Regions from separate parts of the Homo sapiens genome. Here regions 1, 2, 3, 5 and 6 are each reported to be linked to region 4. The links are microRNA targets in miRTarBase. Many come from high-throughput screens and were not tested one by one. Region 4 holds a microRNA gene; each other region holds the end of a gene's coding sequence.
The links. The annotated mature microRNA hsa-miR-23a-3p reads AUCACAUUGCCAGGGAUUUCC and lies in region 4 at 3,734-3,754, shown strand. An mRNA with a match to its seed (bases 2 to 7 or 8) in the 3' UTR can be bound and repressed. Matches are read on the target gene's strand: a 7mer-m8 pairs with bases 2 to 8, a 7mer-A1 pairs with bases 2 to 7 and ends in A, and an 8mer does both.

Region 1: the mRNA of RPRD2 is a reported target of hsa-miR-23a-3p. Seed matches in the 3' UTR shown: 7mer-m8 at 1,254-1,260, 8mer at 2,722-2,729, 7mer-m8 at 3,307-3,313 and 8mer at 3,634-3,641.
Region 2: miRTarBase lists ACSS3 as a target of hsa-miR-23a-3p. Seed matches in the 3' UTR shown: 8mer at 973-980, 7mer-A1 at 1,016-1,022, 7mer-A1 at 2,206-2,212 and 8mer at 3,653-3,660.
Region 3: the mRNA of ZNF138 is a reported target of hsa-miR-23a-3p. Seed matches in the 3' UTR shown: 8mer at 4,117-4,124, 8mer at 4,033-4,040, 8mer at 3,781-3,788, 8mer at 3,697-3,704, 7mer-m8 at 3,614-3,620, 8mer at 3,529-3,536 and 6 more.
Region 5: the mRNA of MAP1B is a reported target of hsa-miR-23a-3p. Seed matches in the 3' UTR shown: 7mer-m8 at 2,605-2,611.
Region 6: miRTarBase lists PKM as a target of hsa-miR-23a-3p. The part of its 3' UTR that is shown has no 7-base or 8-base seed match.

Annotation. Positions count from the first base shown.
Region 1 is chr1:150,472,626-150,477,666 of GRCh38, forward strand. It overlaps RPRD2 (regulation of nuclear pre-mRNA domain containing 2), which reads left to right. Exons shown (of 11, transcript NM_015203.5): 11 at 1-3,941. The coding sequence ends at 709. Among named protein-coding and RNA genes, the nearest start is that of TARS2, 12 kb to the right of the region's middle. RefSeq lists an enhancer at 1-371.
Region 2 is chr12:81,254,061-81,259,101 of GRCh38, forward strand. It overlaps ACSS3 (acyl-CoA synthetase short chain family member 3), which reads left to right. Exons shown (of 16, transcript NM_024560.4): 16 at 797-5,041. The coding sequence ends at 862. PPFIA2 (PPFI scaffold protein A2) reads right to left here. Exons shown (of 33, transcript NM_003625.5): 33 at 3,915-5,041. Among named protein-coding and RNA genes, the nearest start is that of PPFIA2-AS1, 23 kb to the right of the region's middle.
Region 3 is chr7:64,831,332-64,836,372 of GRCh38, reverse strand. ZNF138 (zinc finger protein 138) reads right to left here. Exons shown (of 4, transcript NM_001271639.2): 4 at 2,693-4,922. The coding sequence ends at 4,171. Among named protein-coding and RNA genes, the nearest start is that of ZNF138, 39 kb to the right of the region's middle.
Region 4 is chr19:13,835,508-13,840,348 of GRCh38, reverse strand. MIR23A (microRNA 23a) reads left to right here and starts at 3,690; the gene lies at 3,690-3,762. MIR23AHG (miR-23a/27a/24-2 cluster host gene) reads left to right here. Exons shown (of 1, transcript NR_036515.2): 1 at 1-4,841. MIR24-2 (microRNA 24-2) reads left to right here and starts at 3,990; the gene lies at 3,990-4,062. MIR27A (microRNA 27a) reads left to right here and starts at 3,832; the gene lies at 3,832-3,909. RefSeq lists a silencer at 428-657 and enhancers at 1,078-1,177, 1,398-1,617, 1,648-1,757.
Region 5 is chr5:72,204,839-72,208,838 of GRCh38, reverse strand. It overlaps MAP1B (microtubule associated protein 1B), which reads right to left. Exons shown (of 7, transcript NM_005909.5): 7 at 1-3,755. The coding sequence ends at 3,600. Among named protein-coding and RNA genes, the nearest start is that of MIR4803, 37 kb to the right of the region's middle.
Region 6 is chr15:72,195,690-72,200,730 of GRCh38, reverse strand. It overlaps PKM (pyruvate kinase M1/2), which reads left to right. Exons shown (of 11, transcript NM_002654.6): 10 at 76-257; 11 at 975-1,702. The coding sequence ends at 1,081. GRAMD2A (GRAM domain containing 2A) reads left to right here and starts at 2,944. Exons shown (of 12, transcript NM_001012642.3): 1 at 2,944-3,000. The coding sequence starts at 2,960. RefSeq lists a silencer at 2,797-3,216 and an enhancer at 3,327-3,506.

The DNA of each region.
Region 1 (5,041 bases), not on the chromosome of region 4:
CTTCTCTCGAGATGCACCCACTCATCTACCCTCTGTGGATCTTTCGAACCCCTTCACAAAGGAGGCAGCCCTGGCCCATGCTGCCCCACCCCCTCCTCCTGGAGAGCACAGTGGAATTCCTTTCCCTACCCCACCTCCTCCTCCCCCTCCTGGGGAACATAGCAGCAGTGGTGGGAGTGGTGTCCCCTTTTCTACTCCACCCCCTCCTCCACCCCCTGTTGACCACTCTGGAGTTGTACCCTTCCCAGCCCCACCACTGGCAGAGCACGGAGTGGCAGGGGCTGTGGCAGTATTTCCCAAGGACCATAGTTCCCTCCTTCAAGGGACCCTGGCTGAGCATTTTGGGGTACTCCCAGGACCCAGGGACCACGGGGGCCCCACCCAACGGGACCTCAACGGCCCTGGCCTTAGCCGTGTACGAGAGAGCCTCACCCTACCCTCCCATTCTCTGGAACACCTGGGCCCACCCCATGGAGGAGGAGGTGGGGGAGGCAGCAACAGCAGCAGTGGCCCCCCCTTGGGTCCCTCACACAGAGACACCATCAGCCGGAGTGGTATAATCTTACGGAGTCCCCGGCCAGACTTTCGGCCTAGGGAACCTTTTCTCAGCAGAGACCCATTTCACAGTTTAAAGAGACCCAGGCCACCTTTTGCTAGGGGCCCTCCGTTCTTTGCACCAAAACGCCCATTCTTCCCTCCCAGGTACTGATGGAAACCAAGGGAAAGGCATTTTGAACAGTCTAGAGAACATTGGAAGTAGGAGTTTGGTTTATTGTTGTTGTTTTTATTTGTTTTCTCTTTCTCGATTTTTTTTTTATTATAACAAAGGGCCTCTCTTCCAAAGTAAGAAATCACATACGCTTACGTTTTACTATTCAATTCAATCCTCCCTCCCATTGCACTTATCTACCTTCCCCAAGTTGTTTGTATTAAAAAAAAAAAAAAAAAAAAAAAGTAAAGAAACACAACCAAAGCCATTTCATTTGGCTGGGGGGTTGGGGAGTGGGGAGGAAAACAATCTTTATTTTACCCCATCTATTGAAGAGTATTATTACATTTGAAATAAAACTTCCATCAGTACAGATAACCACATGTGCAATGTTGGGATGTTATTTTGGGCTTGGCTTATCGAGTAGTCAATGGAAGGATTCCCGTCCCCTCTCTCGGCAGCTTAGTAACTGCTGTAGCCAGCTCGGCTCCCTTCCCTGTGTATCTGTGTCCTGCTAACAGCCAAGAGATGTTGCAAGGGAGGAAATGTGAGAGACCTTGAACCTGTCAGGTTTATTTGTTTTGTTTTTAAAGGCATGTTGAAGTTTAGTTCTTTACCCTTCTCCTAAAATCTTTTTTTAATCAGCCTCAAGGTTAAAATAAGGAGTGACTACAGTATGTAAAATAAGGAAAGGAAGCATTAATGGTGTGATGTGACCTGCCTGTTTTTTTGTAAACAAGAGAATAGGAAATGTTTTCAAGGTAGTTTCACATGTCTTGCACCAAGCTCATGCCTCTTGCTTTTCCTTTTTGACTTTATCTCCCTCAGTTTTTCTTCTGCTGTGGCCAGAAAGACAGTCACTACAGTTGACTATTGATACAAAGGTGCAACAGAAATATTATCCCTGCATTTTTAAATATAAGAAGTAGACATTAATTTTACCATGGTGCCTCCCTAATGTAAGTGATATTTATTGGTGGTTTTCAACAAAGGTTAACTATTAAAGAAAGAAATATTTGTCTTTATCTTCCTTTTCCCCTTGCCTCAGTCGTGTTATTCACCCCTATTCTTGATATTTTAAAGGAGGAGATTCAGTAGCATTTTCCTTTATATTATACACATGTGTCTATCCCATTTCAAGGCTCAAGTCTTACCCCCACCTCTCGCTCCCAATAGGAAATAAAGACCATTTCTGCCCTTAGTTGTTTTACATGCAAGATAAGTGCTTTCCTTCTCCCTGGACTGAAAGACTTGTTTGTATTTCTACATCTAGTACTTGGGAAATAGACAATCACTGTACTTTGAGTGTTTATATCTTTATATCTAGGGACACTGAAAAGTAAATGTTGCTTTACTACAATTTTTTTTTAATTTAGTGTCTTACCCCAAGGCATACTCAACTGATAATCTCCAGCTAGATGAGTAAAACAGTATGTGTTTAGTTTTCCAGAGAATTCTGGCAAGTTTCATATTTTCTTCCAAGTTAGTATAGAACTAACTATAGGAAGTATGGGGTTGCTTTTTCCTCCAGTAGAATATTAAAGATGGGGGAGGGTGGGCAATGTAGTGACAGAAAATGATTCTCTCAGAATGAACTTTTCAGAGAAAGAGCAGCATAAACCAGGTGCACATCATGATTTGGGAGTTTTTGCGTAATTTATTCTGTTATTTATTTGGGCTCGCCATGTGTTCTGGGGTTAGGATGCTGCAGGTCATTCATCTTCTTAATGCCTGTCTGGTCTTAAGCCAACTGTTCTTTCTTTCCTCGACCCTCTCTGCCCTGTAGCTCTCCCCACAAAAATGCATGATACCATGACCTTACGTGTGGGATGGGGTATGTAGTGTAGCAAAGAAAAGAAAGTATAGTTATATTGAGTCCTAAGACATTTGTTAGGGAAAAGCATAAGAGAAAATGGGGTGGGAGGTGGGGAAATGATATTTGACTTTCAAAATTGAAATAGGTTTTTTTTTTGCAGAAATTAAATGGGATGTTTTTCATTCTAGAATAAAAGAATGTGAATTCTCTTTGCTGCTCTTGTTTAAGCTAAAAGTAGTGTTTACTTGATAAGGCTCTCTGACCATTTAATTTTTATCAGAAAATGTGGGGATGTCAGGAAAGTGGCTTCCTGAACGTTGGGGCGGGATAATTGTCCTCAAAAGTATGATGGTTAATACATGAAAGGAAGACTTTGTTGGACAGTTTCGAAGGTGGGCTTTTAAGGAGTTGGGTTTTTGTGGGGTACTTTTTTGTTTTTTAAGCCACAAAATCCTCAATATGTTTGTTTTAGGATGGAAGTGAGGATTTGTATGAGACTGTCAGCTATTAATTTTAAGGAAATCTTAAAATTTACATTTACATCAGTAAATGAAGATGACAGTGTGTATATATGTGATAAATAGTGAAACAGAAAAGACAGTTCTGGTATTCATAACGTGAAAGAAAGGGGTTTTATTCTTTCTGTGTCTGTGATTTAAAACTCCGTGACCATGCTCTGACTTTTGTATTTCAACCTGAGTTTAAACAAATAAACAAGATATTTTTTAAAGAAAGCATAACATAGTGTGTCTTAGCAAGGACATGATTCATATGGAAGCAGAATGTGAGAAGTTGTAAGGTCCTTGGTACTCACTGTAAAATCACAGACAGAGAATTGGTAGGGGTTGTGAATACACTAGTACCACTTAAAGTTCAGTGATACAGTTCAGAAATAGGGTCCTTAAGTATTTTGAAAGAGTTTACTCTTCAGTCAGCTTAGATGAGAGCTCTCTCCCTGCTCCCCTCTACCCTCTCAAAAGTTGAGAGTAAATAGAATTTGGTTTGATTCCAGGGAGGGGAAAATAAGCAGAGAATAGGACTTTTATACTTTCCAATACCAGGAATAAAATGTTTGTGATATATATGGGTCCAGCAAACCTATCGAGATAATGTGAATACGATAAACTTCCTAATGGCAGGATATTCACTCTCAATCCTGAAGTTACCGGTTCCTGCAGAATTGAGCTTCAGCTGTTACTGTTTTGAAGCCGCTGTAAATTACTGCTTTCCCCAGTTCCCCCACTATTTTTTTTAAGTGGGCGGGGGCGCCTGTTAAGATCTAAAATAGATATGTTGGATTGATATTCTCACGTGTTCGGTGTGGAAAACAAAACAAGTACATGCTTTAGAAGCAACAACAATGAAATCCTTTTGAAATGTGTGTTAATATCGTTTAATAAAATAACTAGTTTGAAAGGTTTGACATTTTTCTTTGAGACGGGCTTGGACCAGGGGCCCCTGGCTTCCTAGTGAGTGCAAATAGGAGGGAACTTCTCAGGAGCTGAAACCGCTGCTTTGTGGAGCAGGCCTGTGGTTGGAAAACCTAAGTTTTCTCTAGCAAAGACCCAGCCTGACTGTCCAGGGCCGAAGGTGAAACCAACTAGAGAATGCAGAAGGAAAAGCCTGGATATATCTCAGAAGATATGGTTGTATTGGCTTTTGGTCCAAGGGTATGGGGGTGGGAGTAGTGGTGTGTGCGCCCACACATTTCTCAGGCACACACAGAGATACCACAGACCACCCACTTCGTAACCACTTGCACTTTACTCTCTTCCAGACGTTCCTTTTTTTTTTAATCCCTTTGTCCCCATTATTTTGTTTTCCAGTTTAATAAAGTATGGTTTCCTTTGTTGTGTGGTTGACTTTTCCCCTCCTGTTGATCTTTTCCAGATGTCCCCTTTGACTTCTGCACTTAATGTCACTGAAGGCAATCTGAGCCTCTTAAGATCTTTATGGCCTTGTGGGTTTTCTGTTTGATCCTTTGTGTAATTGAATTTTGGAAAGGGATAATGGGTCGGGTGAGTTCTAGATGTTCAGGGAGTGGTTGGTGAAGTGGGATATACTGTATTAATAATTTTTTGTGCATGTCTTCAAAAGGTTGTGCAACTGTGAGCCAAGAAGCATTTTTAAAGCAAGCATAGAATTGGGGGTTTGGGGTGGTAGCAGGGATCCTTCTGGCCAATTATTTGCCCACATCTGCCCTTACTGCATATTGGCAATCTGTTGTGCAGAAGCCACACTTAACCCTTCTGTCTTACCCCATCCCTTGTTCATAACCCAGTGAGGCTGGGTTGGAATGCTGGCTGTAAGGGGTAAAGAGGGATAGTCACTGCATCTGGGCCAGGCCTGGGTCACTGGCAGGGTAGAAGGCTCTAAATAGCAGCCTTGCTTATGTGAAGGTACGTACATGTGTCACCAGACACTTAAATAGCAGTGGCCTGGGAACACACCCAGCAGGTAGGGTGTACCACTGTACTGGAATCTGGCTCACCCTTTTTTTCCTTGTCTCTTGGGAC
Region 2 (5,041 bases), not on the chromosome of region 4:
ACTACAGGTGCATGCAACTGTGCCTGGCTAATTTTTTTCTTTTGTATTTATAGAGGTAGTGTTCTCACCATGTTGCCCAGGGTGGTCTTGAATTCCTGGGCTCAAGCGATTTGATTGCCTCAACCTCCCAAAGTGCTGGGATTACACGCCTGAGCCACTGCTGCCTGCCAAAATATTTTTTCTCTTAGTAATTGTCAGTTAAATTCAAACAAATTTGTGGAAACTTAATCCTATTGAATTAAAAGGTACATTTTCCTTATTATAGTAATTAATGGCAATTAGTGAATGAGAAAGCAAAATAATTGAGGCTAGCGGCAGTAGATGTTTAAAATGCTCTAACTGATAAATGCTAATTTTGTAATTATTTTAGGAAATCTTAGGCTGATTCAATCATATGTTTTAATTTGTGTGTACATTATGTGTGCAAAGATATACCTATTTTTATCATTAAGATAATAAAAGGCAATGCAACAGTAAGGAGTAGTTATGTGAACAAGTGACAAAAAAGAAACATTCTTTCTACAGAAATATATAGAAGACTCTTAAGAGGAACTCCAACTCTAGAGAAAATACCATCTAGGTCCAATAGTTTTGCTAACTGAACTGTTTATTTTTTTACTCTGGAAAGCTACAGATGAGTATTAATATATTAGGTTCAAAGTTCCCTATTTTTAAACTTTCCATATGAATATTACAAGACAATGGGGAAAACAACATTGCATATAATTGTTTAATTATAGAAAGAGTAGAAGAAATTCAAGGAAGAGTATTCACCTGACCCTAATTTTTTTTCCAGATAACTTCTACAATTGAAGACCCCAGCATTTTTGGCCACGTAGAAGAAATGCTGAAGCAAGCATAATGAGTTTGTCTTATTCCTATTTTGAGTTGATTTAATTTCTTAATTGAAATTAAATTATTTGAGTTGTTTCTCAGAAATAAATATTTCAGTAGAAATTACTTGCAAAATGAAATGTGAATTGTAAAACTTGGCCTAAACAAATCTAATGAAAACATGTGAAAGACCTGTGCCTTTTTTTTGGTTTGACCCTGTTAGCATTGTTATTAGTTATCTATAACATGGCTTATTGAATGTCATCTACTGCTTTAGGAAAAACGTATCTAGTGTATTATTTTTAAAATTGTACCTCCCAAGAAGAACACTTTAATTGAAAGCAACACTAATATAGAGCCACTTCCTGAAACCAAGAATCTGTAGTTTTGATCCAAAATCTAAAACTTAAAGTCAGAAAATAATTAAAATTTTTCTTGTAGAAATTTTAGATATTTTCTAGTATTCTTTAGATGCTCACATTGTTTTAAATAAAATAGATGAAATGGGAAGTTTAGGTAATCATCTAGACAGATGAAATTATTATCTAGGTAGGAGGGCTTTTCTATACATTTTCTGAGGGAAAGCAGAACACCGGGGTTATAGCTATACCTTCAGGTCTTTTGTTACTTAGGCAAGGAAAACCACATGTCTGACCTGGTTCAGCATGTAATCCGAGCACTTTGGGAGGCTGAGGCAGGCGGATCACTTGAGGTCAGCAGTTTGAGACGAGCCTGGCCAACATGGTGAAACCCTGTAGCTACTGAAAATACAAAAATAAGCCAGGCGTGGTGGCGGGAGGCTGAGGCAAGGAGAATCACTTGAATACAAGAGGCAGAGGTTGCAGTGAGCCAAGTTCCCCCACTGTACTCCAGCCTGGGTGACAGAGTAAGACTCCATCTCAAAACAACAAAAACAACAAAAAAACCACATGCCTGGCGGAGAACAAAGAGATCATTTAGTCCAATCTCTTCATGGAGATGAGGGCTCCTGGGAGCCCCTCTTCATGTCTCAGGTTCTTAGTTGACTATGTTTATCCAAATGATTCCAGATTCCTGTGGAAACAAGGAATCGATGTACAAATGGGGTAGGGTGGCAAGGAAAACTCTTAAGAGAGAAACATCAAGGTTTTCACATTAGGTTAAAGACAAGAAGGTTTCTAGGCAGGTAGTGTAATGTCTAGGTGATTTTGAAGTGAACTTAAGCCACTAGGTTTGAGGGACAAAGGACAGTAGAAAATGGTGAAGACTGCAGATCACCTGCTATACCTCAAGGAGCAGCGGACCCAGCAGAATATGGCCCAAAAAGGAGGCAGGTCTCCTGTTGCAAGAGCCTCTGTTTTTTTAAAGAGAAAACAAAGAATCCTGGTTTTTATGTGAAATCTCTAATTTTAAAATAATAACTCATTAAAAATATTGTAATGTCCAAAAGTATCTTTCCATTTAACTTCTAAAAATCTCTTAAATGTTTTTTTTAAATAATTGTAAAGTGAGTTTTTGTTAAGCTTATAGGAATGGGCCAGTTAACTAAGGTAGACAGATGTAGGAAATTAAATATTTGATTTACTTAGGGATCTATATGACATCAGTTATCAAAGAATACATTTTAACCCAAAAGTATACCATGCTCATTGTATCTTTGATCGTTCTTCAAGTATTTCTCAATCTTTTAATCTATCAGGAACATTACTATCAAGAGCAGATTGTTGTAACATAATACTCAGGATACATGAAATGTATGTGAGAGATAAATAGATAATAGAAAGTTTATTGTTATAAAAATGACCTACAACTTATATAAAAAAATTCTGAAAATGTTGACTTTTTTTGGACTGAAGACTGCAAAATAAATGGCTTCTCAAAGTAAATTCCTATTTACTTAAATTGCCTTCTTGATTGTTACACCTGGAAAAATATATTCATCTACTTTTTCCTTTTAATTATGTTAGTAGACTGAATTAAACCAGCTACATAGACACTCTCTCATTTGAAGCTGTTGGGATCCTTGAGTTGCCTCTTTCATTGGTACGTTTTATCCATTGTCACAACTGTGGTCTTCATTAATAACTCATTTTAATGTCTTAGGAGTAGAATGTGTTTCCTTATTTTTTTTCAAATAAGAGTCAGTTAATTTGAAATGGCAAATTATTTACCTGAATGTGTATCATTGTTCATTTGCAAGGTTTAAGCTCAGGCAGATCCAATAATTAGGTAAAGGTTGCATCTTTGGTCCTCTTGCACATTTTTTCTGGTAATCAAATCTGAAGCGACATCTCAGCAAGCAGACTTGGGTTATTTTCCACTAGGATGGGAATGGAAAACAGTGCTGGAGACTGGGGAAGTGGCTATTTCCTGTGTCTCACTGGGGAATTGCAAGATCAAAGAATGTTGTTACTTTTATGTGATGAAAAAATAGGGCAAGAAAGATATACCTGAATCATCAGACTGCTTAAAATTTGGGAGGAAAAAATTCTATTTTACTACTAACCATAAATCACTTTTGCTAGATAGTACTTTAAAGATTCTGAATTAAATGTATCTTTAAAAACAACAATATAATATTACTAAAAAATGCAGACATACTTAAACTTGCTAGAATAAATTCTGTGAGGTCTTCGTTTGGTATTTTCATAGGATTTCTTACTGTTAAGTTATTGGAAAATGAAAATATAAAGTGCTTTCAGAAGTTATAGTATTTTCCAATTCATTGAATTACTTTGCTTGTGAAAATATATTAAACATATTTAAATGAGACCTATCCTACATTTAAAAACCAGTTTTGTTTATATAAAATTGTATTTGAAAGGTCCTGAACATTAAAAATGTGAAAATTTATAATGTTGATGATCAAAAGTAACGTGTTGAGACTCTGAGCTTAATCCATTAAATGGATTTTAGAATCTAGTAGAAGTTATCTTTCTTATAAATTAAAACATATTTTATGCTTCTTTTTTGAGGGAAATACCTGGATCTTTTGCATCACTATATGTTAGTGTCTATTATAGATGATTAATCTTTCTAACTTGATCTTTAAAAGAAAGAAATTGATTTTAGTGATTGAGTGTTATATAATAGTAGATACAAATCTAGTTATGGCATTATAATGTCGTAGTTCCTATATTCTATTTCATTTCTATGAATCAAGATGCCCATGTTTAGATGAGCTTAGAAAGCTACTTCTCATTGTTCCTACTCAGGCCACATTTTTAGAAAAAAATTTTAAGATCACTCCCATAAGCAAGTTTAGATCTCCCTCTTGTGGCAGACTCAATTTTGAAGCTAAATATTTGGGTCACCCAAAGAACACATTTCCTGATAGTTTAAGTAAATTGTCGAGCCTTATGTGACTAGAAAACAAAGCTTAAACAGAGAACTGGAATTATTATTTTTTTTATTGACAATGGAAAGGGTTTCTGTTATCATTACCTTTTGACTGAATCTGTTAAATAAAAATAGACATCAAAACAAATGTAATGTACGTGCAAACATAGCAAATTAAAATACAGAAAAGAAATTACTAATGACAGGTCTTGCGCTTAATAAGATCAAGCAGCAGAAAATCAGCAGTTAGATAAATGGTATTATTAAATAGGCTTTACTTTGAATCTCCCATATAAACAAAGAATAAACAACAGTAACACCACCAAATAAAGCCACAGGGAAGAGATTACTCTTCTATACTTTTATACACTATATATGTTAATCATTCTGTCTTTCATTTATTTCCTCTGATAAAACTGACTTCAGGGAAGTCGCAACAAGGCCATCTCGGCTAAAAGCTTATAACATTAGACATGAGTCTGGCTAATGCCCTGTTACATTGACAAAAGGGAAAGGTATCTTGGGTTTCGTTTTCTCTAGTGGAAATGAGCCTCAGACTCTGCGGTGGTTGACATTCACTGTCCAGTACTGGCTGGCATTTCAAGATATTTGAATGAACATGTGGTTCTTAGTAAAGAAGTTTTTTTATCTTTTTTTTTTTCTTGGTCCACAGGTAACAAGAGAAGATTATGGTTTTTTAATATAAATTTTTAAATAATTGCTTTTGACCCTTGTAAACAGCTTGGCTTTGTTTTGTATTGAAAAGGAGATCAAGCCATCACAGTGCTATTTCTAAAGATATAGGACATCCCTGATTGCCTTTAAAGCTCTATTTTTGGCTCCGGTTCCAGGTTAAATCATTCTTTTTTACATGATCAGAGGCAGGTTG
Region 3 (5,041 bases), not on the chromosome of region 4:
GCCAAGTCCTCCCCCTTCTCGTGGTTTTTAATTTCAGAAGGTGCACAATTGCTCCAATCCACAGGGGTACAAAACCTCTCCCACTGCTTCCTCTGTGCAGCCCTCGGAAGACCTCCCTTAGTAGCAGTTCCTCTCCCTACCCCCTTTAATTATACAAGAAATTCATCCACCCCTATACCACCGGTCCCAAAAGGACAGGTCCCACTATTCTCAGACCCTACAAGACACAAGTTCCCGTTCTGTTACTCTACCCCAAATGCCTCTTGGTGTAACCAGACCAGGATGCTTACCAGCGCCCTGGCACCACCCGGAGGCTACTTCTGGTGTAACTCCACACTAACTAAAGTTCTTAACTCAACTGGTAATCACACCTTGTGCTTACTCGTCTCTCTCATCCCTAGCCTGACCCTATATAGTCAGGACGAACTTAGCCATCTGCTAGCCTGGACCGAGCCAAGGCTGCAAAATAAAAGCAAACGGGCTATTTTCCTACCCTTAGTACTAGGCATCTCCTTAGCCTCCTCCTTAGTGGCATCAGGGCTAGGAAAAGGAGCCCTCACCCACTCAATCCAAACATCTCAAGATCTGTCTACTCGCCTGCAGTTGGCCATTGAGGCATCGGCCGAGTCCCTGGCCTCCCTACAGCGACAGATCACTTCGGTAGCACAGGTCGCAGCACAGAACAGGCGGGCCTTAGACTTGCTTACAGCAGAAAAAGGAGGGACATGTTTATTCTTACAGGAAGAATGCTGCTATTATCTCAACGTGTCAGGGGTAGTTGAGACCAATTTACAAACTTTAAAAAAAAAAGATCCAAGAGGAGTTAAAACATTCCTAGGACCCTCTCCACCCTGGTCCTTCTTGGTGGTTTTCACCTGTGGTTCAACAGATGCTCCCTTTCCTTATCCCAATTATAATTCTCTGTATAATAATGTGTTTTGCCCCAATCCTAGTACAGTTTCTCCGCCAGCGGATACAAGAAATCACCAGGGTCACTTTCAACCAGATGTTACTTCACCCCTACGTCCAACTGCCAACCTCTGATTTAGGCCCTCTCCCCAGTGACACCCCTTAACAGCAGGAAGTAGCCAGATGATTTCGTCGCCCCTTTTCTATAACCAAAAATAGGCTGGACTGATTGGACTCCAGTGAAGACTCCAAGATGGCGATCACCACCTCAGATACCCCGACTCAGCATTTCCGGGTTCACCTTTCCTGTTCCCGTCACCCCGACTAACGCGCATGCCCACTAGGGCGTGTCACACTCAGAAGTGTGAAACTCAACCGACCCCGCCCCTACCCTGCCCACTCCTCACCCAGCATCCATAAAAGCGCGCTGCACCTTTGGCACAGTGCGACTTCCCTGGCCCTCCCCCTGTGGACCAGTGAACCTCGCCCGAGAGCTCAATAAAGATTTTTGCCCTCTTTGTCTCGCCTCTTGGCCTTATTGATCCACGGTGCCCTTCCATTGCCTTTCAAACTGTACTGCATTTTATTACATAAAAGTACAATTAGTAAAATTATATACTAATTAATTTTAACTAAAATTATTTTGTTTGGAGTATAACGCAGAATACTACTCTGAACACTTACCTCATACATCACTCAATATTATAAATTAAACACAAAGAGCCTCTCCACTTAGACTTTTGTCATGCATCCTACATTGTAATGTCTTTACTCTTCCATAGAAAAATTCAAAAACAATATTGACATAACAAAAAAGAATCTCTCATACCTTTGATGCAGCAACAATTGATCACATGCTTTCACTAGTGAATGCAATAGGAATGAAGAGCATGAAGTAATTTGAGTTGAATTACATTATTCACTTTTCATAAATTCTGCAATTTTTTTCAAGGAAAAAAGTATACTTTGAATGTAATTGTAACTCTGCAAAAATATTTCTACTTCTTTTAAAGTTATGTACAAATAATTTATCTACCCACTTTAGTTTTGGGTTATTTTATATACTCAGCACATTTACTTAGTGCAATGTTTGAAGTGTCAGTGCCTTAGATATTTTTACTGTGAATTCTCTGATACTTACGTAGCCTTATTTTTGATTTTTTTTATATTTACTGCATGTGGAAAAATATAGTTTAGTATGCATCCCCTGGTGTTTTCTAAGATGTAGTTTTTGAAAAATTTTTGAAATGTATTACATTTGTAGTTTTTCTCCGATATAAATTCCCTGATGTTGAACGAAGTTTGAGCAACTGCTTCGGATACAAAATGTGTACAATAAGATCTGTGATACAAGTAAGGCAGGCACTACAACCCTCTTTATGTTTCTAATGTTTGTCTTCAAAATAAAAACTCTTTTTTTACTTTAAAGGCTTATATTGGCTGGGAACAGTGGCTCACACCTGTTATTCCAGCACTTTGGGAGGCAGAGGTGTATGGATCATTTCAAGTCAGGAGTTCGAGATGAGCCTGGCCAACACAGTAAAATCCTGTCTCTACTAAAAAATACAAAACTTAGCCGGGCGTGATGGTACATGCCTGTAGTCCCAGCTATTCTGGAGGCCCAGGCAGGAGAATTGCTTGAACCTGGAAGGCAGAGGTTACGGTAAACCAAGATTGCACCAGTGCACTCCAGCCTGGGAGAGAGTATTACGTAGTCTCATTTAAAAAAAACAAAACAAAACAAACAAACAAACAAACCACACACTAAAACAAAACCTTATGCTGAGTTTTGACAGTAATTGCATTTATAATGCTTTTATTAAGTACTAACTCTCTAATGTTGAATAAGATGTAAGCACATATTAATGGCTTTTCTACATTCTTTATATCAGTACAACATTTTCTGAAGTATAAATGCTTTCCTGTGCAATAAGGTATAGGAATTAAAGTTTTGCCATATTCTTCACACTTCTGGGAGTTTCTGCCAGTATGAATTATCTTACCTACAATCAAGTGTGACAACCATTTAAAGGCTTTGTCACATTCTTCACATTTTTATAATTTCTTACCAGTATGATTTCCTTTATGTTTAGAAAAATTTGAAGGTTTTGTTAAAATCATTTTCACATTTTTCTGGTTTGTAACATTTTCAGTATTAATTTTGTTTAGTAAGATTTGAGAATTGGTTAAAAGCATTACCACATTCTTCATATTTGTGGGGTTTCTCTCCAGTATGAATTATATTATGTGCAGAAAGGGTTGAAGACTTGTTAAAGAATTTACCAAATTTTTCACATTTGTGGTGTTTCTCTCCTGCATGAATTTTAGGTGTAAGAAGTTTTGAGGATTGTAAGTTTTACCACATTCTTTGAATTTCCAAGGTTTTGCTCCAGTATAAATTATCTTATGTATAGTAAGTGTTGAGACTTGGTTAAAAGCTTTGCCACATTCTTCACATTTGTAGAGTTTCTCTCCAGTTTGAATTTTCTTATGCATAGTAAAGTTCGAGAACTAGTTAAAACAACTGCCACATCGTTCACATTTGTAGGGTTTCATTCAAGTGTGAATCATCTTATGTATAGCAAGTTGTGAGAACTGGTTAAAAGATATGCCACATTCTTCACATTTGTAGGGTTTCTCTCTAGTATGAATCTTCTTGTGTTTAGTAAGGTTTGAGAGTTGGCTAAAACCTTTGCCACATTCCTCACATTTGTAAGGTTTCTCTCCAGTATGAATGATCTTATGTGCAGTAAGAGTTGAGGACTTCTTAAAGACCTTGCCACACTGTTCACATTTGTAGGGTTTCTCTTTACTATGAATTTTCTTATGTCTCATAAGGTGTGAGGACTGGTTAAAAGCTTTGCCACATTCTTCACATTTGTAGGGTTTTTCTCCACTGTGAATTATCTTATGTGTAATAAGAGTTGAGGACCAGTTAAAGGCTTTTCCGCATTCTCCACATTTGTGGGGTTTCTCCCCAGTATGAATTTTCTTATGTGTACTAAGGATTGAGTATCGGTGAAAAGCTTTTCCACATTCTTTACATTTGTAGGGTTTTTCTCCAGTATGAATTAACTTATGTTCAGTGAGCTTTGCGGACTGGTTAAAAGCTCTGCCACATTCTTCACATTTGTGGGGTTTCTCTCCGCTATGAATTATCTTATGTGTAATAAGGGTTGAAAACTGGTTAAAGGCTTTGCCACATTCTTCACATTTGTAGGCTTTCTCTCTAGTGTAAATTTTCTTATGTTCAGTAAGTTGTTAAGATAGGTTAAAAGCTTTGCCACATTCCTCACATTTGTATGGTTCCTCTCCAGTATAAATTATCTGATGTTTAGTAAGGGTTGGGGACTGCTTAAAGACCTTGCCACATTGTTCACATTTGTAGGGTTTCTCTTCAGTATGAATTATCTTATGTCTAGTAAGGTGTGAGGACTGTTTAAAGGCTTTGCCACAGTGTGCACATTTATAGGGTTTTTCTCCAGTACGAATTATCTTATGTTTAGTAAGGATTGAGGATTGGTGAAAGGCTTTTCCACATACTTCACATTTGTAGGGTTTTTCTCCAGTATGAATTTTCTTAGGTTTAGAAAGGTTTGTGGACCAGTTAAAGGTTTTTCCACACTCTTCACATTTGTAGAAATTCTCTCTAGTATGAATTTTTTTATGTTGAGTTAGGCGTGAAAGCATGCAAAGTGATTTGTCACATTCTTTACATCTGAAATGTTTATTTTCAGTATGTCTTATCTTGTGTCTATTTGAATTTGAAAATTTATGCATGACTTTTACATATTTATTACATTGAAATATTTTGCTTGTGGTAATTTTCAAACATTGGTTAAGTCCATTAAAACCTCCTTGGTGTCCCTTACACTCATCCACACTTTTACAGCCTTTTCTTAACTGTAAATTCTTATGTCCATATTTTCCATATCTGCTCAGTGTCACTTTTTGGAAAGAATCTTTTATGTTCTGCTCTAGCCAAAGGTCTTGGGCAAAACGAGAACACAGAGCTGAAAGAAACAAAAAATAACAAATTACTCCACCTGCTAGACTCAGATGAATATACTTTACAAATCTAACCTATAAAATCATACAAACTACATAAGCAAGATGGCATAGCAAAATACCA
Region 4 (4,841 bases):
ACCAGTGACTGCATTCAAGGCCAGGGGACCCCCACAGCCAGGCCCTCACTGCAAAATGTACCTATGTGGGGAGAAGGCAGGGGTGGACCTGATGACGGGGTGTACCACTCTACTAAGGGTTCCCAACATGAAGGTGAGGGGGCCCCTGGGAATTCTGTGATTGGTCTGGGAAAGATTAAAGTCTAAGTGGGGGTTAGAGTGTGGACTGGCGGGACGCAATGGGGGCTGGGATGTCACTTTCATGGTTCCCCTATTTATAACAAGTGATTCAGCCCTCACTTACTCACCCCTTCCTGAGCCTCCCCCCACCCCAGCCCTGGGTGGGCAGCGGGGCCCACCCACTTGTCAGTGCCCTGACTTTCCCTACCCAGTGCCACCCTCTGAGGGCTGCCCATCGGGGCGGTTGTTATTGTCGCTGCACTGGGATTGGGGCAGAGGGGCGGGGGGCTCCTGGTCAGGCGGCGCTTGGCCGGGCAGCCCAGGTTGGCGGCTGGCTCGAGGCCCAGCCCACGGAGCTTCTGCTGAGAGTCTGGGCCCATTAGGCAAAGCGTTAGTGACAGGCTGGGAGGGCGGGTGGCGCGGCGGGCAGGGCGGGGCCTGCAGCCCTTGGTATTTTCCGATCCCAGCTGCTCTGTGAGGGTGGAAAGTATTTGGGGACCAGGCTTGGGGGCGGAGGTGGTGGTGGCGCCCCCGGCGGAAGCTGCCCCTGATTCATTCTTGGAGCATGGGGTTGGGGGGGTAGCGGTACACATACATACCCTTGTGTGTCTGGTCCACGCACACGCTGTCTGGAGGGGGTATTCAGGCATACCCACATGCATTGGCTGGCCGGGGTGTCCTGATGCAGCCTGGGGCCTGCTTTGCTCCCCAGCCCAGGGGCCCGCCCTCTCCCTCATGCCTCCAGCTGCTAGGAGCTTGGTTTCCCCCTGGACACCATCTCCCAAGAGCCTGAGAAGTGCACCATGATTGGTAAAGGGGACCCTGTCTCCTGGGCACCTGCATGGCAGCACCCCTTCCACTCAAGACCCAGACCTTTTGTGCCTGCGGGGATGGGGAGTGGCCTTGGCCCCGGCCCTGGGCTCTGTGCAGGGGAAACCCCACAGGAAACGAGCCTGGCCAAATGGCCGCCCTTCCCGTTCTCGTCCCTGGGACACGAATGTGCTGTCTCACTTCCGGAGGCGGCCCAGGGAGGCTGGCCGCCCTGCGGGGCCTCGCCTGCTCCCAGTTGGCGCCTCCAGACCCTAAGGGGACAGGGCTGGGCTGGGGCCTGATGGGAAAGAGTGGCTGGTATGTGTGTATGTGTGTATAGGGAGGGGACAAAACAGGACATCACTCGCCGCCTGTCTCGAAGTGGTGAGCGCCACCACATCGGGCGGACACTGGGGTCCTGGTGTGAGACACCCACGTTTCCGTTATCCTTTGCCTTGGCAAAGACAGCAGCAGCTCTGTCGTGATCATGTTTATCACTCATGGGGTCCTCACCATGACTTATGAAGTCCATACTTATTATCCCTGTTTTGCAGATGGGGAAGCTGAGGCCCAGAGAGGTTGAGTGACTTGCCCAGAGTCACCCAGCTCAGAAGCTGCAGAGCTGGGGCTTTCAAATCTGGGCAGACTTGGGCTCCAAAACTGGAGTCTGCTAGCCAGGTGTTGGGCTCTTATCAAAAGAAGCTCCACTCACTAAAGACTTAGGGCTGGCTTCATGCATTTGTGAAACGGGCAGTCTCACGGCAGCCCTGCTTGGAGGGACCTGGAGGTTAGTTTAATGTTGCACTGCTGGGGTCATGAATTTTTTTTTATTATTATTAATTTTTTTGTCTTGTATTGCCCAGGCTGGTCTCGAACTCCTGGCCCCAAGCGATCTTCCTGTCTTGGCCTCCCGAAGTGCCGGGATTATAGGGATGAGCCACCGCGCTCAGCCTGAAATTATTTTCTTTTTTTAAACTTGTTTTTGTTTATTTTAGAGATAGGGTCTTGCTCTGTCACTTAGGCTGGAGTTCAGTGGCATGGTCATAGATCACGGCAGCCTCAAACTCCTGGGCTCAAGCAGTCCTCCCACCTCAGCCGCCTGAGTAGCTGGGGCTACAGATGTGTACCACCACTCCTGGCTGATTTTTTAGTGAATTTTTTGTGGGCCAGACACTGTGGCTCAGGCCTGTAAGCCCAGCACTTTGGGAGGCTGAGGCAGGCGGATTGCTTGAGCCCAGGAGTTGGAGACCAGTCTGGGCAACATGGCAAAACCCCATCTCTACAAAAATTAGGGCCAGGTGTGGTGGCTCACGCCTGTAATCCCAGCACTTTGGAAAGCCGAGGTGGGCGGATCACCTGAGGTCAGGAGGTCGAGACCAGCCTGGCCAACATGGTGAAACCCCGTCTCTACTAAAAATACAAAACTTAACTGGGCGTGGTGGCGGGCACCTGTAATCCCAGCTACTCGGGAGGCTGAAGCAGGAGAATTGCTTGAACTCTGGAGGTGGAGGTTGCAGTGAACCGAGATCACGCCATTGCACTCCAGCCTGGGCGACAGGGCGAGACTCTGTCTCAAAAAAAAAAAAAAAGAAAAGAAAAAGAAAAAATTAGCCGGGCATGGTGGTGCATAGCTGTAGTCCCAGCTACCCCGGAGGCTAAGGTGGGAGGATCACTTGAACCTGGGAGGCTGAGGCTGCAGTGAGCTGTGATTGCACCCCTGCACTCTAGCCGTGGCGACAGAGTGAGACCCTGTCTCAAAAAAGAAAAAATATTTTTTTTTTTTGTAGAGATGGGGTATTGTCGTATTGCGCAGGCTGGTCTTGAACTCCTGGCCTCAGGTGACTCTCCTGCCTCGGCCTCCCAAAGTGCTGGGATTACAGGCGTGAGCCGCCATGCTTGGCCTGAAATTCTTAGTTTTCGAACTAGAGGACCACGTGTTCATTTTGCACCGGGTCCTGAAAATCCTGTATCTTGCCCTGGTGCTGGGCACTTACTGAGTGACATACATACTCGGTGACATCTCACTGGGCTATGCAAAAGAGGCTCTTGGCTCCATTTTACAGATGGGGAAACTGAAGCTTTGGAGAGTCTTTGGGAAACTGTGGAGCAAGGATTTGAACCTTGGGCTGTTTGGGTGGAGAGGCCTGTATCTTGGAGCTTGGATCCTGTGCTCTGGGGGGCGGGGGGTGCGTGTCTAGAAAGAGAGGGGGGTGCCTTGCTGCCGGCATCCGCCCTGGTGGGTGTGGGCTAAGCCCTGGCCACTGAGGAGACCGGGCCACGGGGGGGGAGGCCCTGGTGGTTTCCTCCTGCCCTCCAGGCTTCTAGGAAGTGGCGCCAGCTGGGGTGAGATCACTTCCTCACCCGCCTGCCTGGCCCCCCTTGGCTTCCTCTCCCCATGGCCCCATTTGGCCTGCCCAGGGCTCAATGAGGGGGGAGCTTGGCCATGCAAGTTGCTGTAGCCTCCTTGTCCCGCATGGGCCCTCTAGGTATCTCTGCCTCTCCAGTCCTGGGGCTGGAACGGAGGGCACAGCTAGGCTCCAGCTCCCCGTGTGGTGGCTCCTGCATATGAGAAAAGAGCTTCCCTGTGATCAAAGGAAGCATCTGGGGACCTGGAGGGGAGGTGTCCCCAAATCTCATTACCTCCTTTGCTCTCTCTCTCTTTCTCCCCTCCAGGTGCCAGCCTCTGGCCCCGCCCGGTGCCCCCCTCACCCCTGTGCCACGGCCGGCTGGGGTTCCTGGGGATGGGATTTGCTTCCTGTCACAAATCACATTGCCAGGGATTTCCAACCGACCCTGAGCTCTGCCACCGAGGATGCTGCCCGGGGACGGGGTGGCAGAGAGGCCCCGAAGCCTGTGCCTGGCCTGAGGAGCAGGGCTTAGCTGCTTGTGAGCAGGGTCCACACCAAGTCGTGTTCACAGTGGCTAAGTTCCGCCCCCCAGGCCCTCACCTCCTCTGGCCTTGCCGCCTGTCCCCTGCTGCCGCCTGTCTGCCTGCCATCCTGCTGCCTGGCCTCCCTGGGCTCTGCCTCCCGTGCCTACTGAGCTGAAACACAGTTGGTTTGTGTACACTGGCTCAGTTCAGCAGGAACAGGGGTCAAGCCCCCTTGGAGCCTGCAGCCCCTGCCTTCCCTGGGTGGGCTGATGCTTGGAGCAGAGATGAGGACTCAGAATCAGACCTGTGTCTGGAGGAGGGATGTGGTGGGTGGGGTTGGCTGGGCCCAAATGTGTGCTGCAGGCCCTGATCCCCAACTCTGCAACTGGGGACCCCTGCATGGCCACAGCTCAGGCTGGGCTGTGGTGCCAGCATAGATAGGTGGGTGAGTGGGTGGCCCTTCCATTAAAAGGGAAGCCAGCTGTGTCCTTTCCGGGCCTGGAGGCTTGGCCCCTCCTCTCCCAAGCCTGGCAGGGGCACTGGCCCGGCCCGCACCTTCCTAGCAGCCAGTTACCCAAGAGGAAGCTGCCTTGGGCCTCCAGACCGTTAAATGCCAACTCCTGGCTTCCGGTATCAGGCTGGGTTGACCTGACCTGGCCCCTTCTTGCTGGGCCCTGCAGCTTTCTAACTTGCCGGGAGGAGCAGTGACACCCGCCCCACATGTGGGGCATGGAACAAGTTCCTTGTGGACCCAGAAGGGACACAAGCAGGTGTGCTTAGTCCTGAGGCGCTGGGAATAGCTGATCCTCCCTGCCTTGAGGGGGTTCTCAGGGCAGGGAAGAGTTAGGACTCTGTTTTTTTTTTTTTGTTTTTTTTTTTTTGAGATGGAGTCTCGCACTGTCACCCGGGCTGGAGTGCAATGGCTCGATCTCGGCTCACTGCAACCTCCACCTCCCCAGTTCACACGATTCTCCTGCCTCAGCCTCCCAAGTAGCTGGGA
Region 5 (4,000 bases), not on the chromosome of region 4:
GACTAAAGAGAGGCAAGAAAAGCAAATTCAGAATTGTAGAGCAGCTCCTAAGAGCTGAAATTTGGTAACAGAGGGAAAATGAAAGGTGGTAAGATTTCCATTAGCAAATGATTAAATCTTAATTAAATGAGTATTGGAAAGCTCCTAGACTGCATAAGCTATTGGAGACACTTAAAACATTCATATACACTGGGGAAACCATTCACTATGATATGTAACGTTAAGAAAAAAAATTTTTTTGAACTCCATGGAAAATGGTGTTTAAAGAGGGGAGGAGGGGAAGTTAGTCATTGTATCCAGTCCCACCACAAGACTGAGAAAGCATGCACAGGGCTCAGGGTTTTGAGAAAGGGGACAGAATTGGTTAAAATTGAAAATGGAGGATCATCGCTAACATTTAGTCTCTGTAGAATTTTGTTTAAGAATACTACCAAAAAGGTCATGATCATGAGTGCTATCTCGATAGAATCCCATCATTTAAACAGAGTGTAAATTCCTTCCACTCAAATATTCAATCTATACAATTGGATTAAGTAATCAGTATGAACAAAGCTCCTAGAAGTCTGTGTCGATCTTTAGCTCTCACCATGAATGTACATGGTACATTGTGATGGCTGTTACTAAACTAATCGTGTATTTATGGAACTAGCAAAATTAGGTTAGTCACACAGGCAGGAAAGGTGTCTGGAAGGACAGGAGCAACCTGTAATGCGAATATTGGTTTTCTTGGTATACTCAGGCTCTGTGGTCATATTGAGAACAACGGATGGAGAAAGGTACTGATAGATTTCATAGGAAAAAGAGCCAGCTGACTAGTGACAGTTTTTACATATTTTTCCCATTAAATCCCATAGCAAAAAAAAAAAAAAAAAAAAAGAGAGAGAGAGAGAGAAAGTGAGGAGGGTGGAGTGGTTATAACTGAAGACTGGCTATAATTCTCCTACAATGTTTATAGTTTTTAAAGCAAAATAATGTTCAGGTTAAATACATTTAATTGTGAAATTGGAAAATAACTTGCATCTTCTGTCAAAGAAAAATCAACCAGAGGTCTGGATTTGGCAAGAAGGCTAAAAATCTGGTTTTCTTCCCACGCATTATGTAGACCAATTCAACTTAAGAGCTAACCATTAAATAATTATCTTGAGTATCTTAGGTTGTGTTATAAAATAAATTTGAAGTAGATGAGTTTATACTCAATGAAATTCATTGGCGTCACAATGACTTTTCCATCATGTGTTAATTTCTTGTACCCTTAATATGTTATTTTCCAAGGACTTGAAAGAAATGGGGTAATAAATAAAAGCTGCATTTCTAGAGAAGCCTAACAAAAATAGAATATTAATTTTCTTTAAAAAATTAAACATTTGAAAAATGTAATTCACAGCATTAAGTAGACTGCATAGGTCCTCAGTGAAAGGACCCTGAAGAAGCATTTTTTTAAACCCTCATCATAGTTAGCAGTGCAAAACATAGACTTATCAGACAAAAATCAACTAAAATGTTAATTTTGAAATAAATAACTAACATAGAAAATAAAATGAGGTCATTGTTCTCTACTCCGTAGATCTTAGAGTCTGCAGGAAATGTAATGTGACAGAGCACAGCACAGTTGTCACGGAGAAGTTTGCCTCATCTGAACACTGGGTGCATTGATCTGCAACTTGAAACTTGATGTCAGTGTTAATCATGATCTGGCTTCCCAGGTTCACAGTTCAATGATGACAATGATGGAAATTTTCTCTAAACTCTACATGAACCGTAGGAGTTGAGAATTCATTTGTTTTCAATGTACTATTTCTTTTATTTTTTTTTTCCAGAAAAGAAAATCCCAAAGCAAATTTGTGCTAGGGTTCTTTGAACTTGGCTCTTTTACCTCATGGTTGAAGATCTTGAAAGAAGTATGTAGGATACCACTGGGTGATGTACTTGTCAAGGCCCTGAAAAGTAGCCTACCATGCCATTCTCCCCCACTCTCAAGTAGCACTTTTATGTTATGGGAATCAAGGGGTGGGAGGTATCATTATTCCTGGTAGTTATGGGTTTTTAATAAATATCATTACTGCAATATCAGACTTCAATCTTGCCAGAACTTCAAAAAACATTATTCAATTTTTGTCTTACGAAACACTTAAAAAAAAAGACTATCACTTGAGAATTTTCTTTGCAATTTCCTGTAAATGAAAACATTTGTTAAAAAGTTCATCTATGAAAAGTTCTCACATATCTTAAAAAAAAAATTCTTCTGTACACTTGTTCCCATAATTATGTTGAAATTAATGGAAAATTTAAAAAGCCAATGTAAGACAAAGGAAGGTAAATACTGTACACTTGCTGAGAACCTCTTCCACCATAAGATTCACTGTTTTCCCAGTTCTGATCATAGAAGCCATTTCAGTCTTGAACTTGCAGTAGTAAAGAAGCTGTGAAAGGCACAACTTGTTTGACTGAGAGGCCACAGGTGCACTGAAGTGGGATTCAACACGCATGACTCAGCATCAAACTGTTGGACCAATCAGATCAGCTTCTAGTACCCCCACACACGCTCACCCACGTGTTCCTTTAAGTATCTATAATCCTATATGGATGTTTTATAAACTTGCTGTCTCACATTAAAAAATAAGTGCATCAAGTATCTTTGTACATTCAAGTCACTTCCTAAGGCAAATTGTCTACCATATGTACTCCCAACTGCTTTGGTATTTGCTTCAGTTAATTGGGGTGGACTTGGGTGTTGCTGCATGCAGGTTAATCGACTCAGAGTGGACTAAGTGGGTGGACAAATGCTGGGAGCATGCCTTAGATCAATCTACTTGTGTGTTTAGAGTCTGAGAGTTCTGAATGGGGCCCAAACCACTTGCATGGCCAGTCTACACTCACTACATTATGTCAGTGTGCAGCCTTCAAACTGAAGGAGCTTAATTAAGATGTGAAAATATCACATGCCCTCATAACAAGTGTTGTTCTTTTTACTTTCTTCTAGCCAACTTGTTTTAGAAAATTAAGACTCTTTTTGATGACTCAGACTGACAAAAATGGAAAACTTTGCCTATGTAGACTAAAGAATGCCTACTGCCTGAGAAAATGCAGACCTAATTGTTGGTTTATTTTCTCCTCCTTACCCCACCCTGCTCTCTCTTTTTCTCTCTGGGTATCTCACCAGAACTCTCTGTCATTACATCTCCTTCTCTTGCATTCCTTTTCTTTCTCATTCTTTCTCTCTCTCTCTCCTGCGTTATCTTTGTGCTCTCACTCTCTCTCACTCTCTCCCGCGCTCTCTCTCTCTCTAAGACAAATGCCTCTACCTAGCAGAAGTCAGTTGGGTTGGCTAGTGCATGGTTTCCAAATGTTCAGCAGAGATGAACTGGGGTAGGTAATTTTGCAGGAATTTGAACCCTATTGTGGAAATACTGTTATTTCCCTTAGCAATCAGCAAAAACTGAGAAATTTAGTGACTTGCATCACCATGACACAGTATAGCATTTGGCAGGTAATTGTTCAGCGACTTAACTAGATGAATTGACTTTTTAGAAAAGGTGATTTCAAATTGAAGAATTTCTGGAAACAAAGTTCAGATCCTGTGGTGTGGCTGGCCTTGGTTTTTACAGTTCAATCTTGCATGCAGGGAAGGATTCATCTTGCATAACCACTGTGCTGCTGCTTGCTAAAACCATGATGTTGAGATCTTGCTGTTTCTCATGGGTCTCCTGGTACCATTCCCTCATCACTTCTGAGTCATGAGTTGGGATCAGTGTCACCTGCAGGGAGAGAAAAAAAAAATAGCTATTTAAGGGCAGAAACAGAAACCATATGAAAAAAATTGAATAGCAAGGTATTAGACCACTGGAAGAAGAAGGGAAATGAGAGAAAACTTTTCTATTTTCCTCAAGAAATGCAAAGGATTTTTCAATGTATATTTTCCAGGAACCAGAATAAAGCTGCAAAGAAAAGCTATTGTTTCTAAGGGAAACTGAAGGCTGGAACCAAAAAGCAATTAATCAGT
Region 6 (5,041 bases), not on the chromosome of region 4:
TGTTTGAACGCCCTGAGGGTACTTCCTGGGGCCTCGTGTAATGGTCTCTTCTGTATGTCCCCCATCCCATCTCAGGTCTGCTCACCAGGTGGCCAGATACCGCCCACGTGCCCCCATCATTGCTGTGACCCGGAATCCCCAGACAGCTCGTCAGGCCCACCTGTACCGTGGCATCTTCCCTGTGCTGTGCAAGGACCCAGTCCAGGAGGCCTGGGCTGAGGACGTGGACCTCCGGGTGAACTTTGCCATGAATGTTGGTACGTGGCTGGAGCAGGGGCTAGAGCCTAGAGGAGCTTGGGGATGCTTGAGCATTGGCTTCTGTGGGACCCCGAAAGTTTGGGGAATAGAAAGGGGAACACACAGACCTTAGTGGGGCAAAAGGCCCAGCGACTGTTCCTCTCCCTTATTGGGAATGTTCATTCTGAATCTCTCATTCTCCGAAGTCCTAAGCTGAGCCAGGAGGGAAAAGGGTCCTTTGAGTTGTAGGGCTGAGCAATTCAGTTCCTCTTCTCTTCTAGTCTGGGGCTCAAAGCAAAATTGTCCATTTTTTGGCATCTGCTCATTACTGAGAGTTTTTTTTGTTTTTTGTTTTTTTTTTAAATAAAATTGGCCACAGCTCCTGTGCTGTGGGGTGGCATACACAGATTACGTACTGATGTGGCCATTGTCCCTGTATAAGGTAGGGTATCATCAGATGACAGGAAGCAGCTAGCTCTGACCCTGGGCAAGGCTTTGCACCCTCTCCAGGATAGTGAATGATGTCCAAAGGTCCCTGCCAACCCTGCCATCTGAGTGATAAGGACATTTCAGGGCCTTCCTCCTGTTTGCCTGGGCTGTGAGTTTGGTGCCACCTTGTGGTGTGAGGAAGTAGTGGTCAGCCAGCCTAGTTCAGTACTCAGGCTATGGGGCAGCTGCCCAGGTGCAAACCTGCCTGGCTTGGCTTTTACTCACCAACCTCCCTTCTCTTCCTCCAGGCAAGGCCCGAGGCTTCTTCAAGAAGGGAGATGTGGTCATTGTGCTGACCGGATGGCGCCCTGGCTCCGGCTTCACCAACACCATGCGTGTTGTTCCTGTGCCGTGATGGACCCCAGAGCCCCTCCTCCAGCCCCTGTCCCACCCCCTTCCCCCAGCCCATCCATTAGGCCAGCAACGCTTGTAGAACTCACTCTGGGCTGTAACGTGGCACTGGTAGGTTGGGACACCAGGGAAGAAGATCAACGCCTCACTGAAACATGGCTGTGTTTGCAGCCTGCTCTAGTGGGACAGCCCAGAGCCTGGCTGCCCATCATGTGGCCCCACCCAATCAAGGGAAGAAGGAGGAATGCTGGACTGGAGGCCCCTGGAGCCAGATGGCAAGAGGGTGACAGCTTCCTTTCCTGTGTGTACTCTGTCCAGTTCCTTTAGAAAAAATGGATGCCCAGAGGACTCCCAACCCTGGCTTGGGGTCAAGAAACAGCCAGCAAGAGTTAGGGGCCTTAGGGCACTGGGCTGTTGTTCCATTGAAGCCGACTCTGGCCCTGGCCCTTACTTGCTTCTCTAGCTCTCTAGGCCTCTCCAGTTTGCACCTGTCCCCACCCTCCACTCAGCTGTCCTGCAGCAAACACTCCACCCTCCACCTTCCATTTTCCCCCACTACTGCAGCACCTCCAGGCCTGTTGCTATAGAGCCTACCTGTATGTCAATAAACAACAGCTGAAGCACCTGTTTCCTCTCTTTTCTGCTGGGGAGGGGGAGGTGGTTGAACCCTGCCCTCTGAGCAGGCTGGGAATGGCTGCAGCCTCGTGCCCCGCAGTGGGAGCTATGGTGGTGTCACCTGCCATCCTGCCCACCTCCTGGTGCAGAGGCGCTGGGAAAGCAGTAGCTTACTATCTTAGGGTTACAGGTTGCCCCCTTCAGTGCTGCGGGGAGACTTTAATGGCTTACGTGAACCGAAGATGGGAAAGAGCAGGGACAAGGCCTCCCTCCCACTCTGGTAGATAAACCCAAATTGCAAAGTGGCCTTGGCCATGGTTCTTCCACTTTGGTCTTCCTGCATTAGCGTATCCCTTATGGGGGCTGTAGGAGGAGTCAGCTCTGGGCGCCTGAGACTGGGTTTGGCTCCCAGGTCCTCAGTTGTGGACCTAGGCTCCCCTTGGGACCCCTCCTGTTTGCTGGTGCCCTCCCACCATGATGCTGTAGTGCCAAAGGGCTGGGGGAGAGAGTTGGGAATGGGACCAAATCTGGCCTGCGCTTTTCCTCTCCCCTGACCACACTCCCAAGGACCAAGTGTCCTGGTGGGGATGGAAGAGGAAAGGGCCTGCAGGCCAGGCAAAAGCTCATTGTCACACTGAGCGCACGTGCCTCTGCTTCCCTGCCTTTGATTTGTGTCCACCTTCAGCCCCTTTGCAGACTCCTCCAAAAGTGTATTTCCTTGGAGAAACTGCAATGTTAACTCCGGCAAAAGTGCGTGGGAGCATCCTGGCTCCCGGGTTCGTGGTGGTGACTTGGCTGTCAGACCATGGTGTTCAATATCCCCTTTGGTGTTCCCCACTGACGGTAAAATTGAAACTTATCCGGAGCTCTATGTTGGGAAGGGTTAGGTTGGAGAGGGGCCGGAATTGGTTCCTGCAGAGGGACCCAAGCCGCAAGACTAGGACGACAGAAGCGTCCAGAGGGGACACAATACCCTCGACGTGAGGGACAGGAGGTGCCGCGCCAGGCCCTGGCCTCCGGGACCTCCCAGTCCGGGGAACCGAGCGCTAGGATCTGCTCAGAGCTTGGAGCCCCACCTGGGGAAGGTGGGGAAGGAGAGAAGCTGGGGAAGCTGGGGAATGAGGGGGAGGAACGGCCAATGGGCTGTGCCCGGCCCGCGCGACCCGCCAATGGGCGGGCGGGCGGGGCGGGCTCTCGACGGGGCGGGCGGGGTCCGGCGGGCGCTGGGTCCCGGCGCGCGGTCGGGGCGCTGGGTGCAGGCGCCGGGATGACCGCTTTAAGCCGGAGCGAGGCCACCGAGGAGGGCGGGTAAGGGGTTGCGGCCCGGGGGCCGGTCTCGGGGGTTCCGGAGGCCGCCGCGAGGGGCTGCTGCCGCGCGGGGCAGGACGGCTCCTGGGGCCGCGGCAACTCGGCGCGTTCTGCCCACGGGGCAGGCACTTCCCGGCCGCCGGAATGCGGGCTCCGGGCCAGAGCTGCACCGCGCGCCCAGGCGTCTCCCGGGGCCCGCGAGGTGTTCGCACTAGGACCGGGTGTCTTGGCTGAGTCTGCTGCGACCTGGGGGATGAGGGACGGTCCCGGCAGCATCGGGGCAAGGAAGGGCACCCTCCTCGGGACGCCCCGCATGGCCCATCTCCGCCTCGCCACTCTGTTCATCCTTTCATTTATTCATTCATCATTCGTTGCCCGCGGTATCGACTCCCAGTCCTAATTGCCCCCGACCCAAAGGTTGGATTTCCCTGCGTCCCCTGGAGGGCCAGACTGTTTCCTCTCGCCGCCGAATCCGTATTGTAGCGGCCCGCGGCTGCGGGGAGGCAGCTCGGAGCTGTCTCAGCACGACGCGGCCTCCCCCGGGCGCCAGGCCCATCCCGGTCGGGCGGGCTGGGGCCGGTCTCCCGGCCTCGAGACCTGGTCCAAAGTCGCCCTGGGAGAAAGGGATAAGGAGGCAGGGCAGACAGGAGCTGGCGCTGCACGTAACATCCAGAATTGTGGTTTCTGCTGCTTGAGGTCTTAGGGTCCTGGGAGTGACATTGTTTGGGGGAACCTGTCAATTCCTGCCCCGGTCCAGGTTCCAAGCCGCACAGCCTAAGGTCGGGTACAGCCTGGCATCCTCGGCCAGCTAGCACTGGGGCAGGTAGGATGAATGTGTGAGCCTTGTGTCCAAATCAGCCCGAGACACACAGGGATGTGGACCCCAGCGGGACTCCCTCTGCCTTATACTCAGAGGGACTGGTGGGGCTCCACCCCGCTGTCGTCTGTGTCTCTGCTCTGCTTGCCGCCCCACTCACTATGCTTGATTGTTTAAAGGTGCCCCTCCTTGCAGGGGCCAGGCTCCTAGGGAACGAGAGAGGGTACCCTCGCAACCTGATGTCTTCACCCCATGTCCACCTGTAGCCGGCTCTAAAGTCTGGCTCCTTTCAGAGCAAAGACTTATGGCCTTGCTGGGAGAGGTAGAATAGAGGGTGTCTATCCCATTCTTCAGTGAGGAGTCAGTATGCCCCTCCTTCTTTTTTCTTTTTTTTTTTTCTGAGACAGTTTCACTCTGTCACCCAGGCTGGAGTGCCGTGGTGGGATCTTGGCTCACTGCAACCTCTGCCTCCCAGGTTCAAGTGATCCTCCTGCCTCAGCCTCCCGAGTAGCTGGGATTACAGGTGCCCACCACCACGCCCAGCTAATTTTTGTATTTTTAGTAGAGATGGGGTTTCACCATGTTGGCCAGGCTGGTCTTGAACTCCTGACCTCAGGTGATCCACCCACCTCAGCCTCCCAAAGTGCTAGCATTACAGGGACTACAGGTGTGAGCCACGTGCCTGGCCCCCTCCATAGTCTTCTGATCAGGCTGGCTGGAGACCATGCTGCAGACACTCTTAGGTTTAAGTTTTAGTTTGACAGGCATTGAGGTAGCCTCAGTGGGCACCTCTGGGACAAATGGGCAGGTCCAGAGGGGAAAGCTGACAGAGGCCCCATCGAGCTTCCAGGAGAGTTTAGGCTGGGGCCAAATAGAAGTTCTCCTTCCCAACTTCCCCTTGGGAGAATTTTCTGAATAGCCTGAAGAGGGTAGCTCAAGCTCCATCTGTGCCTTGATGTTGCTGGCTGCTTTCAAATTTCTTTCTTTTTTTTTGAGACGGAGTTTTGCTCTTGTTACCCAGGCTGGAGTGCAATGGCGTGATCTCGGCTCACTGCAGTCTCCGCCTCCTGGGTTCAAGTGATTCTCCTGCCTCAGCCTCCCGAGTAGGTGGGATTACAGGCATGCGCCACCACACCCGGCTAATTTTGTATTTTTTAGTAGAGACGGGGTTTCTCCATGTTGGTCAGGCTGGTCTCCAACTCTCGACCTCAGGTGAGCTGCTCA